Linked DNA regions of Homo sapiens. The protein of the gene in region 1 interacts with the protein of each later gene in a pairwise test. Each region holds a gene or a part of one and is shown on either strand. Other genes may lie near its edges. The genes, in order: MYT1L and TNIK.

The links.
Region 2: the proteins of MYT1L (region 1) and TNIK interact in a two-hybrid assay, tested with the Homo sapiens proteins (2 studies listed by IntAct).

Annotation. Positions count from the first base shown.
Region 1 is NC_000002.12:2,328,034-2,336,131, reverse strand, and holds the start of MYT1L (myelin transcription factor 1-like protein), read left to right. Parts: upstream 1-4,856; 5' UTR 4,857-5,165; intron 5,166-8,098. UniProt on the Homo sapiens protein: Transcription factor that plays a key role in neuronal differentiation by specifically repressing expression of non-neuronal genes during neuron differentiation.
Region 2 is NC_000003.12:171,079,221-171,086,502, reverse strand, and holds part of TNIK (TRAF2 and NCK-interacting protein kinase), read left to right. Parts: intron 1-1,273; coding exon 1,274-1,385; intron 1,386-2,177; coding exon 2,178-2,348; intron 2,349-4,108; coding exon 4,109-4,252; intron 4,253-6,850; coding exon 6,851-6,985; intron 6,986-7,282. UniProt on the Homo sapiens protein: Serine/threonine kinase that acts as an essential activator of the Wnt signaling pathway. Recruited to promoters of Wnt target genes and required to activate their expression. May act by phosphorylating TCF4/TCF7L2.

The DNA.
Region 1 (8,098 bases):
GAATAAATACCTTCTATAGATTATCTTAGTTTGCTGGTTATAATAATCTAAACCAGCAGTACCCAACCTTTTTGGCATCAGGGACTGGTTTCATTCATGGAAGACAATTTTTCCACAGAACGTGTCGGGGTGGGGAGGTGTTTCACCTCAGATCATCAGGCATTAGATTTTCATAAGGAGCACACAACCTAGATCCCTCACACACACAGTTCACTATAGGGATCACACTCTCATGAGAGTCTAATGTCGCCACTGACTTGTCGGAGCTCAGGCAATAATGCTCACTTCCCCACCATTCACCTCCTGTGGTGCGGCCCAGTCCCTAAGAGACATGGACTGGGGTTGGGCACCCCTTACCTACATCTTAAATTCTCAATGCTCTTTTAGATCTCAGAATTATATTTCATATTTATATCTATATATTTTGCCAATAAATAACCAGTTCTATAAAATCAGGCCAAGTGATCTGAATACAGATGTTTTCAACTCTACCTGCTCCAGACTCCCCTAATATGGGTTTATACTGAATAGAATGGTCAGCCTGGGATAGCTGCAAAAATAACGCATGAGCTCTGAGGTTCATGGTCTACCCCTTGTGGTCCAGTCATTTCACCGAGATTACACAACCAAATTCTATCTGACCACAACTATTCTTGATACCTCAGCTCTTCTTCATGATATGTCTCCTAAATTTCTTTCTCATTATTCTATTTAGCAAATTAACCACCAACACCTTATTTCTTTTATCTATTTGCTATTGAGTCACTCTATAGATGTTTTGATTAGTTGAAGCTAATTCCCTGTAATGAAAATGGGTTCCCCATCCTTATCATTGATAAATTAATAAACCACCCCCTCTCTGATATATAGCTAACTTGGAAAGTTGTTCCCCAATACAGTGGCGGAGGGCTATGTTAGTGCCTGATTTTGCATAGTGTACACTCTGATATAGTAATATCTGGATTCCAGGTTTTACCAATTTACTACCCAACTATAGCAATTCTATGCTGTTTGCTCCAGACCTAAATTAATCTCAGACTCCCTTTAGATGTCACAGCTCTCCATCACTGGTGCAGACATAATTCTGAAGAAAAGGTCATGAAGTCATCGTCATGCTTTCCATGAAGGTCTAGTTCCCGGCTCCTCACCTGGTGTGCAACATGGCACCTGAAGAAACGTCACGGCTCCTTTTTGTTTCTGGTCTCATGATGAGACCAGAGTCCAGAGAACAGAAAGGAAAGAGATTGAACTTTCTATACTATGAGAGATCAATCTATCGTTTGTTAAAGTGATCAGCATATGTATCCTACAGTTGGAAATACATCCTAGGTTATAACTTGTGTGTATTTCCACACAAAAAATTATATGGGCTTTTTTTCTTTGTACTAAATTGGAGGACATACCCATTAGAAGTGGCAATATGTTCCAATTTCTTTTCTCTTACAAATAAATAAATACATACATAAATAAACAAAATTAATGACATATGTATTTCCTAATACCAAGGGCTTTAACATGTGGAATAAACTAATACATGAAGTACAAAATATATTAGAAATAATTTAAGGAGGCAGGTGACAGATACTTAGAGACAAAACATTTGGTTATACGGTTTAATCGCAAACTACAGATTTTTAATCTAAATGGTCATTTGAGTATTCCCCAGTTCTTCTACATCATAAAGGATTTTATGGTACCTTACTGCAGAGTACTCGATATCATTTTTGAAGAAATCATACTGTATCAAGTGAGCTACAATGTAACTGCAAAATGCAGACTGCAGTGTTGCTCTGCTGTGGCTCTGTGGCTTCATGATTCATTCATTTTTCCTCTTCTCTTGAGCCATTTGAGGGCTGGTATCTCAGCTCTAAAAGTCATGCAGAGAATGGGTGGAAAGAATACAAATGCTTCACTGGAGCCCGATTCAGGCTGGGGCAGTTGTTGTCAACACGATGAGGTTGAATGAAATGCAGTGACAGTGTGGTAAGGGAAGACGTGTTCTTTAATGCTGCTGGGTCCAGGGATGCCTTACCTTAAGGGTAAAACATTAGATACTATGCTTATCAACACAGCAGCCTGTCATTGCAGTGAGTTACACCTACAGCTTAAGGTAACCAAAGCTGTTGAAAGAATATTGTGCCTGCGTGTGTGTGTGCAGGTGCCCCATATCAAATATACATTCTGTTTTCATAGACATGCACAAATGTGTAAGAAAAACATATACATGTATAAATCTGTGATTTAAAATATTGTGTCAGTATTATTTACAGATTTCTTTCTTCTTAATGTAAGGTAAGGTATGTGGGGGTGAATTTTAACTAAGAATTTATTATTAACACAACTATGATAAACTCATAGGGAATGATTACATGAATATGTGTGTATATATGTGTGTGTACATACATATATATTCATTTAATTTGAACTTTATTTTTTTAAGTACATTTGGAATTCCTTGGAAGTAATAATATAATGTATATGTAAACGCCTAAATAATACCCAGGAGGTCACGATTTGACCTAAACACTCGCATTTGCGTGGGAATTTTATTGTGCTCACTTTTTTTTTAGAGGAATGCTTTGTCCTTTACAAAATGGACAAATACTCCCACTGTACTGCAGTTCCAGTTCTATAATCATTTTGGAGGCGCTCTTTACCCCGTGGTGACCACAACACGAAGAACCGTCCTTACCCACATGCTGCTTGCCTGGGGAGCTCAGGATCAGTGTCTTACACACAGAAGGATATATGCTCCCATTTTTTTTCCGCCGACTGTAAATGACTCCTATTCTTTGCTCCACAGAACATCCGATGTGGTGCCCAATCAGCTGAAAAAGCTGCACAGACGTCATTAGTTCCGTGTGTGTGTGTGTGTGTGTGTGTGCAAGAGAGAGAGAGAAAGAGAGAGAGGAGACTGCAGCTGCCTTGCCGCGTGCCGAGTGGAGTCTCCATTAGGGCAGCGCTATTGATTTCTGATTCACACTGCAGCAACAGGGCTAGAGCTCAGAAGAAAAAAAAATCACGTCTCAGAAACAGGAATTACAAAGACAAAAATAAGTAGATAGATAGTTTTATACAAAAATCAAGCATCTGTTACCAAAGGAAAGCAAAACTGACAATTTAGCAAAATTTAAAGACTGTTTATAACATAGAATAAGATGTATAGGAGAAGTAGAGTAAAATGAGTTTAGAAAAATTATTCGTTCTAATTTTTCAACCATTTTTTTGAGAGGTGATAATGGTCTAATTTCCAGAATGCCTTGAAAAACCCTGGAATACTCGGCAGAGGTGCTGCAAAGTAAAGCTTATTTGAGGGCAATCTTGAAGCTATGCCTGAGAATTTTAAACAACAAAATATCCAAGATTTATTTTTTCAATTGTGTTCGATTATTTTATTAGCTAGTAGCTTTCTCTGTTTTAATTCTCTGTGTTGCATAATATCTAGGATACAGTAACAGGCTGGTTGCAAATGCTCGAAACAGAAATAGGTTTCTTCATAGGCTGTGTTTCAGCATGTCCAACTGTGAGCCTGTGAAGCAGAGCATCGGAGTTCTCTCGAGGTCTGTTGCTTCAGATTTGGTTAGAAATTATTGAATCTGGAGTGTAAAAATCTTGTCTGGGCCTTTTAGGCAGCTTGATTTTAAAACTAGCCCTTCTGCCCCAAGACTTATCAACCGCCCCCCCACCCTGTCCCAAAAGAAAAGCTGAAGTAAGTTCAGTGTTAAAATAATGGTGCTGTCAGGCAGGCAGTCTGCATGTGAGCAGCAGAAAATTAGAAGAATAGAACCATCCATTCTCGTTTCCCCCCGCGACATGCACGCACACATACGTGCACACACACACACACACCACACACACACACACAGACAACACCAGTCAGTGAAGGGGGAAAAGGGTGATACCTTTTTAAAAAATGAAAGGCAGTAAGCCATTATTAGCAAGAGCTATATTGAGCATGCTTGCCAGACAAGCAGCAAAGCTGAGCTCCAGTTCCGCCCAGACATGTGCCTTGCCATTTTCATTTTAATCAGCCTGCTCAGGATGGCTGCTGATTCATTTTGCAGGATGTCCCCCTGGGAGCCAAGGTGGAAGCCTGAGGCGAGCTGCTATTGCATCAATGCAGCACATCAGAGCGAGAGCGCGGAGGCAGAGGGAGGAGAGAAAGCCTTCAGCACCGCATCCCGATTTCAATATGGCTAGTTAGAAGGTCCTGCATGAAACCGAGTCTATTGCAGAAAACATAATGAAAGGAAAGGAAAAGAAAAAAGTCACATTGTCATTTCATTATCCAACTATTCTCTCCCCCAACCCCTTCTTGCCACCAACAGACACACACACGTACACATTTTACAGTGACCATGAAAGATTTCAAGCCACTCTGTGGAAGTGTGTGTGTGTGTGTGTGTGTGTGTGTGTGTGTGTACTATTTACCTGGTAACTAGCTGGGGTGGTATACCTGATTTAGCTGGAGACTTTGATTTGTAGGACTGACAACCTTATTATGCAGTGAGTTTATTATTGATATTATTCTGCTCTCGGTTGCCATGGCCACCTTGTGAGAGACATTCAATTTTCTCTCTTCCATCATCATTATCTATGAGGCCATCTGTTGTGGAAAATGAATTCAGCCTCATTTGCATGACTGATAAGCAATTTTTTTTTTTATCTATTTAACAGAAGGTCATATGCCGGGGATTTGGAGCTTGTGAAAAAAAAATGTGGAAAAAAAAAAAAGCCTAGGAGAGGATGAGTGGGAGCGTGTGCATGGGGGTGTGTGGAAGTCAAACAGATCCCTGAGGCCTGCGAGCCTATCGCGCTGCATTTGTCATTCCTGCCCGGGCGACATTTTTTTTTTCCCTAAGCTACTGCACACTAAACAGTGAGAGAGCTTTTCCCTGCAGTCTTGTTGAAGCACCCCGGGTTTTTTGCTCATTGTTGGTGGGTGCATTTTAATTTTTTCATTCCCTGGACTATGGGTTATGATATCCATACTCACTGAAGACAAAAAGCCACCTTTTCTGCGTCTTGGTGGCATGCATGTGTCTCATCATCCTTTCAAACTTGTGGTGGAACAGGGTTTTCTTCCCTGTCTGTGTATTTTGAGCCAGCACAGTTACCAAAATTGAACTTGTCTTTCGCTTGTGAGCGGTTGTGGTCATTGTGAGGTACGTGATGTTCGTTAGGTTAATTTTTCGGGGAACTTAGTGAGCAGGATGTGTTTTACCGTAGCTCAAGGGCTGAGGCTGCTATTCCATTGTCTGCTCCTTTTTAAAGTTATTTTTACAGCATGGCTGGTAGCTGAAATGTTCCTGGACTGGAGGCTTTGTAATCCACAAAAAAATCTGTCTTTAAACTAAAATGGGTATTAGGTTGCATGACTTAACTGTGATGTTGTTTATTAAGAAAAAAAGAAACAAAAACAAAACGGGGTGCATGTATGGTGTTTGGAGGATAAGAGGATACTGAAACAAAAACTTCCCAGAGACTTTACTGGATTACTTTACATTACAAATGAAGCACATCATTTTATGCAAAGGCAATTAAAATGTTAGCTATTTTGGATGAATTTACCTGATGGTAAGAAGAAAGTTGATTTATATTGTTTAAGTGGAGAAACTCAAATAAAGATTTTTAAATTTAACTTAAATGTTTGAAGTTCATAATAATGAAAGAAAATGTTATTTATAACAGAAATATGTCTTTTTGTAACACCTAAATTAATAAACTAAAAGATTAAACTCTACACTTTAGTTTTAAGATAGATCTGAATAAAGCAAAAATATATATGTAAATATTTATATGAAAGTTAGCTATATAAAATATAGAGAACAGATTTTGAATTTAGTATTAACCATGACAATTTCTTGTACCATCAAAGCTATATAAGCTAAATAATTTCTAAGTTACTTAGAGTAAAACTATTTTATATAAGAGCCTTTTTGTTCAAATGTTTATATTTTCTACTAAACAAAATTAACGTCATAGACCAAAGCATCCCAAAACCACCCTTACTGGCATATGAGGGTCTTTCTAATTGTTCATCTTCATTTAGTGTCATGTAGCTTTAAAAATAATAAAGTCATGTCTCCCATACAGATAAAAATGTAATTATTTTTAAAAGAAAAGAGTTTTATAAAATATTCCTTTTCAAAAAAAAAAACAGCATTGCATTCCTATAAGTTTTCACCTCTCAAGAACTTTGAATCCAAAGTGTTGATTGTAAGTTATAAATGCTACTAAGAGAAACATTCCAGAAAAAAAGGAAGTTTGTTTTTTCTGATTGACCTAAAAGAACATGTATGATTCTATCACCTCAAATGCAGTAAGTTAATTGCTTAAAAGTCTCCTTAAAGTTATACTTGAGTGATAAATTTTCTTTATTAACTAACATAGACCACTACTGATGTGTGTGTGTGATGGTACTTTACTTGATTGCACTTTGAAAACTCTTACCATACTATCATACACTTTTCATAAACAATAACAGTTGTTATATAATCCTTCTGCTTTTAATCAGCCATATTTCTTTATATTTTAGCTTGATTTTCAGAGAAATAAGTTTATTTTAAATATTAATTGTGCATTTAAAGAATTTAAAACAATAAAATTCTGATAGATTATGAAGATTATTTAAAGTGACATCAGCTTTCTCAGAGGACTATAAGAATCAGTAATATGAGATCTGGATCTATATTATAATATGAAGGATTATGTTGTTGTCTTTTGATCTGTACATATAGTCTTCAGATTCGTGAATCAAAATTATCAACATCTAAAAAAACCTATGAGATAGCACAGTTGATTTTTCTCTCCTCCCCACCCCCACCCACAAAAAGTTAATTACCAATCTTGGTTGGATTCTTCCTTGCCTCCCTGACATTTGACTGCTGCTAATTCACTGATTAATCTCATTAATGTGATTATAGTAGGATTTAGAGTTGGCTGCCATTGTTCTGTAGACAGTGCTATTCAGGCTGAGCACTTGCCACCTCATTCAGTTTTGCTGTGATTTTTCAAAGGCTGGTGGAGTGAGCTATTGTGAGCAGGCTTCTCTGCCTTCCCTTTCAGCACCAGGAGCTGTCCGCAGCTGATAGCGATTGCATTCAACAGTGACTGACTTCCTCCTAGTTTATTGGCAATGTGAAAATGGCTCACTTTCATCACCTTAATGATTGTGCTAGTTGAGGTAGAAGTAGGAGAAGCCTTCATGGTCACATTTGGATGTTTTGAAGATGGTGGCAGCAAAGATATCTATACTTGAACATTTTTATTTAGTAAAGACTTTCCATCTGCCATTATACACATATTTTACTCTATTTCCAAATATTCAAACATATCAATATGTTAAAAATTACTTGTATATATGTATAGTTGTGGGTTGGAAAATTGTAAACATTATTACTTTTCAACTGGAAAATTTTATCCAAATACATGTAATTATTAATAAAATTCATCTTTGAAAAGATGCACCAGGACTATCTGGTGTCACAGTAAGGTAGAAAGTATGCATGACACACAAATTTCAACTTCTCTTGAGTTAAACTTGCATCCAACAGCAGAACTTATGCCAATTTCACAAATTTGTGTTAGAAGCTGAGATCAAGGTAAAGGCCCAATGATTTGTGACCACATATGAGTGGTGTACAAAAATTATTAAAGGAATATGAGTACCTAGTCTTCTTCGGGGTTATAAAAGCTGTCAAAGCATGACCTTAGGACTATGTGGATAGTTTCAGAGAATGAGACTTCTTTAATATGCTGTTTTCACTGTCCCTGTTATGTTTTTCACCTAATTTATTTATTTATTTTTTACTCTCTTGAAAATGTTTCTATTTTGTACCTTACTCTTGAATATACCCAATTATTTCACTGTCTGATGTTTTCTGTCTGCTTTCTGTGTCAATGTTTAATAGATTAGGGAAAAGAAATAAGTGATTATGCAATTTCAAAGATTTGTAAAGTTTTTCTATTTGTTACAATTATACTTAAAATTAAAAAATTGAGTTAATAATCTGATTATTTGTTCAGCTGCTTTTATAAATACTTTACATTTATAATTTTTAAAAGCCAATTACTTCTCTGTGAAAAATTAATTTTG
Region 2 (7,282 bases), on another chromosome or scaffold:
CATGCTGTGTGGGCATTTTCTGCCTGAACACCTCTCTTGGTACCAAGGAGGACACCATAAGATTGAACCCTGGTTCAAATTCTGCTGCTGCCCCAGCTCTATGTGGAAATGTTAGTGCCTGCCCTACCTCTTTCACAGACATCTTCCAAAGATCAAAAGAGAACATGTACGTGAAAGTGTTCTATTTGGTAGGGGGAATTCAACCTTGAGGAGGATGAAATGGTTTTGATTTCATAGGATGGAAAGAAAATCTTGAATTAAATCAGATTAGATCTTTGTGGTTTTCTCCTTATATGTTTAGAGGTCTTGGATGGTGGTTTTATTTTTAAATAAAAACCTAACAGTAAAACTAAAGTGAAATAACCTTTAGTTAAAGATATTTATCCAAAAAAGATGTGCTTATTATGTTGAATACAGATGTGTTTATGATGTTAAAGGACAAGAATAGAAGAAATGGACATGACTGACATTGCAGCTTATTCAGCAAAACTCAAATTTAGAATATTGTGACATAAAACCCTGATATTGAGTTTACTGTTCCCTCATCTCCTTCTGACATCATGTTTTCATGGTGCCATTCAAGCCCAAGATTCATTTTTTAAAGTAAGCCTTCAAGGTACATTGCTCACAAACGTAATATCCTCATGAAGTCCCTAAATAAGGATGTAAATGTAATTATTCTTTTAAGGAAACTATCGTGGGAAGGAAATATCTTCAATTCCAGCATAAAATCATCCCTGAATTGAGGATTTTAAAGCTTTTGGAGCCAACACCAATTCACTTGCATCACCAGGCCAGAGTAGAAGGGCTCAAAGCTCTCCTCCCCAAGAGAAAGCCCCTTGGTTTGACTCTGTTCAGGATAAAGTACTGCTGTATAGGCTTCCTTACTTAGTTTATTGCCAATTATGTCAGCTTTTCATATTGATCAAGTAGTCAATATAGGAGGTTGCTTTTACTGAAAGGGAGAGGTAAGCTCTGTCACCACAGTGATCTTACAGATTTTAAGGTGCCACATGTGGTCCAAAATGTAATTTTCTCACTACAATTCTTGCAGTCTGATAATTAATGAAGTCCTACGAATGCACAATGACTAGTGAGTAACCAATACCAGAAGAAGCTGGAGACAGGCACGCACTGACTAGAGCACTAGAATGTGAACACCTGAATACCTTGAAGAATCTGTGATCGTTTTACAGCCCAAGCACAGTATTGTTAGCATTGTTATTCCTGCAGTATTTATCTGCTCTTCTTAATCTTCTTGCTTATTGATTAGTATGGCATGGGGAGCAGCACCAAAGCCTCCTTCACCCCCTTTGTGGACCCCAGAGTATACCAGACGTCTCCCACTGATGAAGATGAAGAGGATGAGGAATCATCAGCCGCAGGTAAGCAAGAAGGGCCCTGTGTTTAAAAAACAGCTTCGTCTTCCTTTCTGGTATGACCTGATAAGGAAATTAATCCTCAGTTCAGTAGTTAAGCTGATTACTGCTTAGGTCCTATCTTAAAAGGAAGACTTTTTAAAATTATTATTTCTGTAGGACTCCTAAAACAAATGTATTACTTTCCATTTTTTTTCCCATCTCTTCTATTTCGTTTCTGGTAGACCCAGGGGTACATAGGGACCCTAGGAAAAGCTGTTCCTCAGTGATCTCTGAACATAACTAAATGTTTCCCCAAAACAATTTCTGGGTACAATGTTTTACACACATTAGGCACTTAATAAGTGTATGGTACATTGTGTTGAGTTCTAGGTGTGTGCTTCCCACCACAAAGATCAGGCTGATTTAAAGGAGTCTTGCTTTCTAATCTTCTTCAAGTAATTAATCATCAAAGTCAGCTTAGGACAGTTTTTCAACTGATAAACTGCAATTTTAAAAAGTAGATCTTTTTTGCCTATATACAAGAGTGGGGATGGTGTATTTAATTTGGGACTTTCTAGACTCTGCAAGTAGTGTCTATAAGCCTGTTTTTCTAATGAATAAAAGATTCCTTTGATGAATGACTTAGACTTTATTCTACTAAAACAAAAAAAAAGTGTAAAATAAGGAGAGTTTCAGAGTTTCCTTGCCTTTACTATAATTCAAACCAAACAAGGAGAAATCATAGTGTTTTGAAGCCCCATCTCCATAAGTTATCTTTTAAGATGTCACTGACTTCTCTGATTCTTTTTCTCAAAGCTCTGTTTACTAGCGAACTTCTTAGGCAAGAACAGGCCAAACTCAATGAAGCAAGAAAGATTTCGGTGGTAAATGTAAACCCAACCAACATTCGGCCTCATAGCGACACACCAGAAATCAGAAAATACAAGAAACGATTCAACTCAGAAATACTTTGTGCAGCTCTGTGGGGTATGTTGGTGCTTTTTTTTTTTTTTTTTTTAAATAACCACTCATTAATGAACTGACCCTCAAACATTAAAAGCCTGTGGATCTTGTCATCAAAAGAACACTGGTTGAATCCTGGGTATTAGAGACCTAACTTGGGACTATCTTGACCTCAGGAGAAACCAAAAGGAGTTTTATATGTAGAAATAGCTGATACGCTACTAGCCAGGAAGACGAGATTAGATTCAGAGCAACCTTGTCACACAATAGTGATAGGCTAAAGCCAACAAGAGAACTAGCTACCACTGAATACATTGAGTGGGCAAAGCAAAGCCTATAATGTGATCAATCAGAGGCGATTTGTGTCTGGCACTTTGTGATATACCCCACGTTCATTCTCCATGATCCATACCACATCCTGCAAGGGGAATATGAGCATAAATAATGGCATAAACCTTTATTTCAAGCTGAAAAATCAGCCCAGAGTATTTTTGTGAATTACTAAAGGTCATAACCCTAGCAATAACAAGATAAAACTTGAAAAGAACAACAAATAATTTAATGAACTTTCCCTTTTAGTTTAAAACATCAATCTGCATTTTCTCGTGAAAAAGATCTGCAGGTTTTAGCTGACCTCAAACTCAGGAGAGGCATGATGAGATTCTATCAAAGTCTTGGTCTGTGTTACTATAAACATCTCATACAGATTAAGGAAGGACATGTCCCCTGTGTACCCACTGAAAATACTAGGCTTGGATTGGGGAACCATAATTTTAAAAGGCTGAAAGCATTTGAGATGTTAGCGGGGAAGAGTGTGAAGCCTAGGAACCATTTCATGATAGAGGCTCTGTCCTCTGGAGAAGAGACAGAAGAGAACAAGATAGCCACATTTAATACTGAAAGGATTAATATATGGACAAAAAAGCAGACATTTGTGTTGATCAGAAGATAGAAGTACAAGACGTAAGAGAAGTTAGAGAGTTACATGTTCATGAATAAAGTACACTGCACAATGAGCCTCTCAATGTGTGTGTGTGTTGAGGGGTGGATGATACATTTCCCTAGCCATAAATTTTTAGGATTACAACTACCCAGACAAAGCCACTTATGTGCCTGTGCTTCTGTAATAGGGATTACTGCATGGGTGTTGGGCTGCACTAGATTTAGAGACCTGAGAAGTCCCTTAAAGTGAGTATGTCTGTGACTCTCCAGCTATTAACACTTCTCTTGAATGGGTTTATCATTTCCCTAAAAAAGAGCAAAAACTTGAGGGTATGGGGCATAAGATAGTTACATTTTGATTCAAGAAGGAGGAAGGGCCTTTCTTCCATTGGAGTATGGAAATGGAAATTCCACTGTATATTGAAGGTGGGTAGGCTAGAGACCACTGCATAGGGGTGGGGGTGAATCTTGGGGAAGAAGAGAAGTGATTTATAGGGAGAGCCAAGAAAGAAGTGGTTTTTCCAGGCAGGGAATAAAGGCAAATTATGCTAGCTTCACATCTGTGCCTAAGGCTCCTATTGACAAGGACTCTCTGCATTAGGTAGTAAATAACTAGATGTATGAATGCTGCTAACTTTATAAAAGAAAACTGTAATTTCATTACCAGAAGTACAATGATTTAATTATTATGTCAGAGCTTCTACATTCATTAGTTTATATTTACCTACTTGCCCATTAGTGTATATTTACAAGTCACAGTTTCTTAAATTTTATAGGGACTCTCGATGCAGAAGATTAAAGTTCATGAAAAGTCAGTCTTAGGGTGCTTCTTAAATTTACAGGTGTAAACCTTCTGGTGGGGACTGAAAATGGCCTGATGCTTTTGGACCGAAGTGGGCAAGGCAAAGTCTATAATCTGATCAACCGGAGGCGATTTCAGCAGATGGATGTGCTAGAGGGACTGAATGTCCTTGTGACAATTTCAGGTATGTTACTAAGATGATGAGTCCCCCAGGTCCATACAGCGGGAAAGGGATCCACCTCATTTCTGCAGAAACAGTTAGTTCTGCCCTTCCCAGCTAACAAACAACACAATAAAGTATAGCAGTATAGCCAGAGTGAGATTGCCCACATTTTGTAACACTGGGAATTCTGACCTCCAAAAAGAAGTCTCTCACCTCTGCATTAAATCTGAATTAGGCAGAGACATACCACAAAGGCTATATATTTATAGCTCTTTACCTCTGTCAGGACTCAGCAAGGATCTTCGGATGTTTTTAAGGTTTCTGCACTCCAGTTATTACCACATACAGACAGAATATCAAAATGCAGGCTTCCTAGAGGGACATTTAGTAAGCAGAAATTTCTTGGTCTCTTCCCTCAAAAATTCTCTTGCTTATAGCCCACTGATGTTTTGGCAGGTGCAGCTGGCACACTGGGTGATCAAGTCTACAAAAAGATTTGAGTGTGGGAATCATTACTGCTATGCTCTGTAGCTTTCTGATTCCCAAAAAGAGCCTTATATAGGAAAAAAAAAAAAAGATGGAGACTAAAGTGAAGGCCTTGTAACAAGTTAAAAATGCAACCTAAAAGAGGGTAGTTTTGTTGAAAGTTTTTTTTCTTTTTGGTATTTGAAGGAGTTTAACGAGTAACACCCGTCACTTCCCCTCTCATTCCATCTAGTATGGAACCAACTTGCTACTGCACTTTATAATCACCTAGGGAGATGTGAAAATCTAGGCTGCACCCCCAGACCAGAGTCAGAATCTCTGGGGGTGGGGTTTAGGCATCAGGAGCGTTCATAGTTTCTGATGTGTTTCCATTGTACAGCCAAGTTTGAGAACATGGATTTATGCTCAGCCATTGTTTCACGAAGAGACAACACAGGGATGCTGGTTTGAACTTTCCTCAAAGTTCAGCTGTACTTCCATTTTGACAAAATGCTTTTGCTTGTCACTAAACTTCCTCTTTCTTTTACCTTTCCACTGAATGCTCAGTTTCATCTCTTTTTATTCTCCCCAAATAAGGTTAACCAGGTAAATTCCTTTTGTATTGCCATTTGAGTTTAATCCCATGTAGTCTTTTGTTCTGGTTAATTGCTGTCCTGATTGCTATACTACCAAATCAAAATGAAAACTGCATATCTGCCAAAAGTGGGAATGCAACCAGAAAATTCACATTCAGACTTCATTATGTTGTTAGTGGCACATCTTCATTCTTAACAGTGTAAGAGTTTCCTTTTCTCATGAGGCACAGATAGGGAAAGGAGAAAATGAAAATAGGAGCAAAAGATTCTTGAACTAACCTTGGATTCATATTGGCATAGAAAGGAGGAAACACTGGCTCTCGTGTCCATCCTAGCTACTGTGATCAATGTGGATTCTAGGCCTTTGGTTACAAAATTGAATACTGACCACACAATGATTCCCTTAGTTTAGGTGATGAATGTGCTCTCCTGTCAAATGCATGTGTAATGCTTTACTAAGTTCTCTTCTGCTGGTATATATTCATCTATAAAATATAAAACATTTTTTTTGGGAGAGGCCGAGGCGGGCGGATCATTTGAGGTCAGGAATTCCAGACCAGCCTGGCCAACATGGTGAAACCCCATCTCTACTAAAAATATAAAAATTAGCTGAGCATGCTGGGAGCGGCACCTGTAATCCTAGCTACTTGGGAGGCTGAGGCAGGAGAATCGCTTGAACCCAGGAAGCAGAGGTTGCAGTGAGCCGAGATCATGCCACTGGACTCCGGCCTTGGCGACAAAAGTGAAACTCATGTCTCAAAAAAAAATAAATAAATAAATAAATAAAACATTTTTAAAGCCTAAGATAAAGAAAAATAAGTATCCAAAAAATAAAACCCATAGAGCTAAATTTATCATTAGTTAGGAAGAGTCATCCCAATGGACATTTTATCTGGTGCAAATCATCAAATGGAGTATATCAAGTTTTGCTACTTGTGTACTCTTCAATATTGTCTAAATATTTTATCATCCTATGAATTCTTTATTCCAAGATCACTTTACCAAACGGAAATTTAAGTTTTCAAGTTTGCATCCTTTTTTTCCTATTTTTGTTCAGTATTCCTTTCAGTGACTTCAGCACCATAAACCTGCCCAGTATAATTTTCTGAACCCATATTATCCTCTTGTTTGTTATTAGGTTATACGGTGAAGGAAAGGCAGGTGCCAAAATGCCCAGTTGCCAACACTTCTTCATGTGATTGATCTAGAATGTTCTGGAACTCTGATCACTCTGTTGAAGAGTTAGCTCTTACTAAGTTCAGCAGACACTGCTTTGCATTGGGAAGAGAGAGTAAGAGCACATGCTCAAATAAGAAACCACCTGAAGATAAAAGACATTGTAATTCTGTGATGTGTCTAAAACACGTAGAGCTATTTTAACCATAAGTTCTGGCAGAAACACCATTTTAATGACAAAGTGCTGGGGACACTGGTTATTATGCCTTCATACACACACACACACACGTAAATAAAATAAATTAGAAATAAATGGAGGTGGGGAAGGAAAAAGTGAGAGCTGTCACAGCAATTTGAAATTAAACCTCTATTATTTCAACAGGAAAGAAGAATAAGCTACGAGTTTACTATCTTTCATGGTTAAGAAACAGAATACTACATAATGACCCAGAAGTAGAAAAGAAACAAGGCTGGATCACTGTTGGGGACTTGGAAGGCTGTATACATTATAAAGTTGGTAAGTCTCAAGACATGGAATTATAAGTTTGGTCTGTTTACTCAATCAGACTTACTTAGTTAGGTTTCACCTAGTTTTTTCTATCAGATTGATGATGCATGTGTGACCAGCTTCAGATGTTGCTGGAACCTTCAGCATTATTTATATTTTTTAAAAGCCAGATTGATGAAATTGAAAGAGTGCATTCAGAATAAAGTCCTAGGCTCCAGTTTGAACATTTATATCTACTTTCTTCCAAAGACTCATTAAAATGACAAGAAAAGAATAAAAATGCCATAAGCCTATGAGGACAGTGGG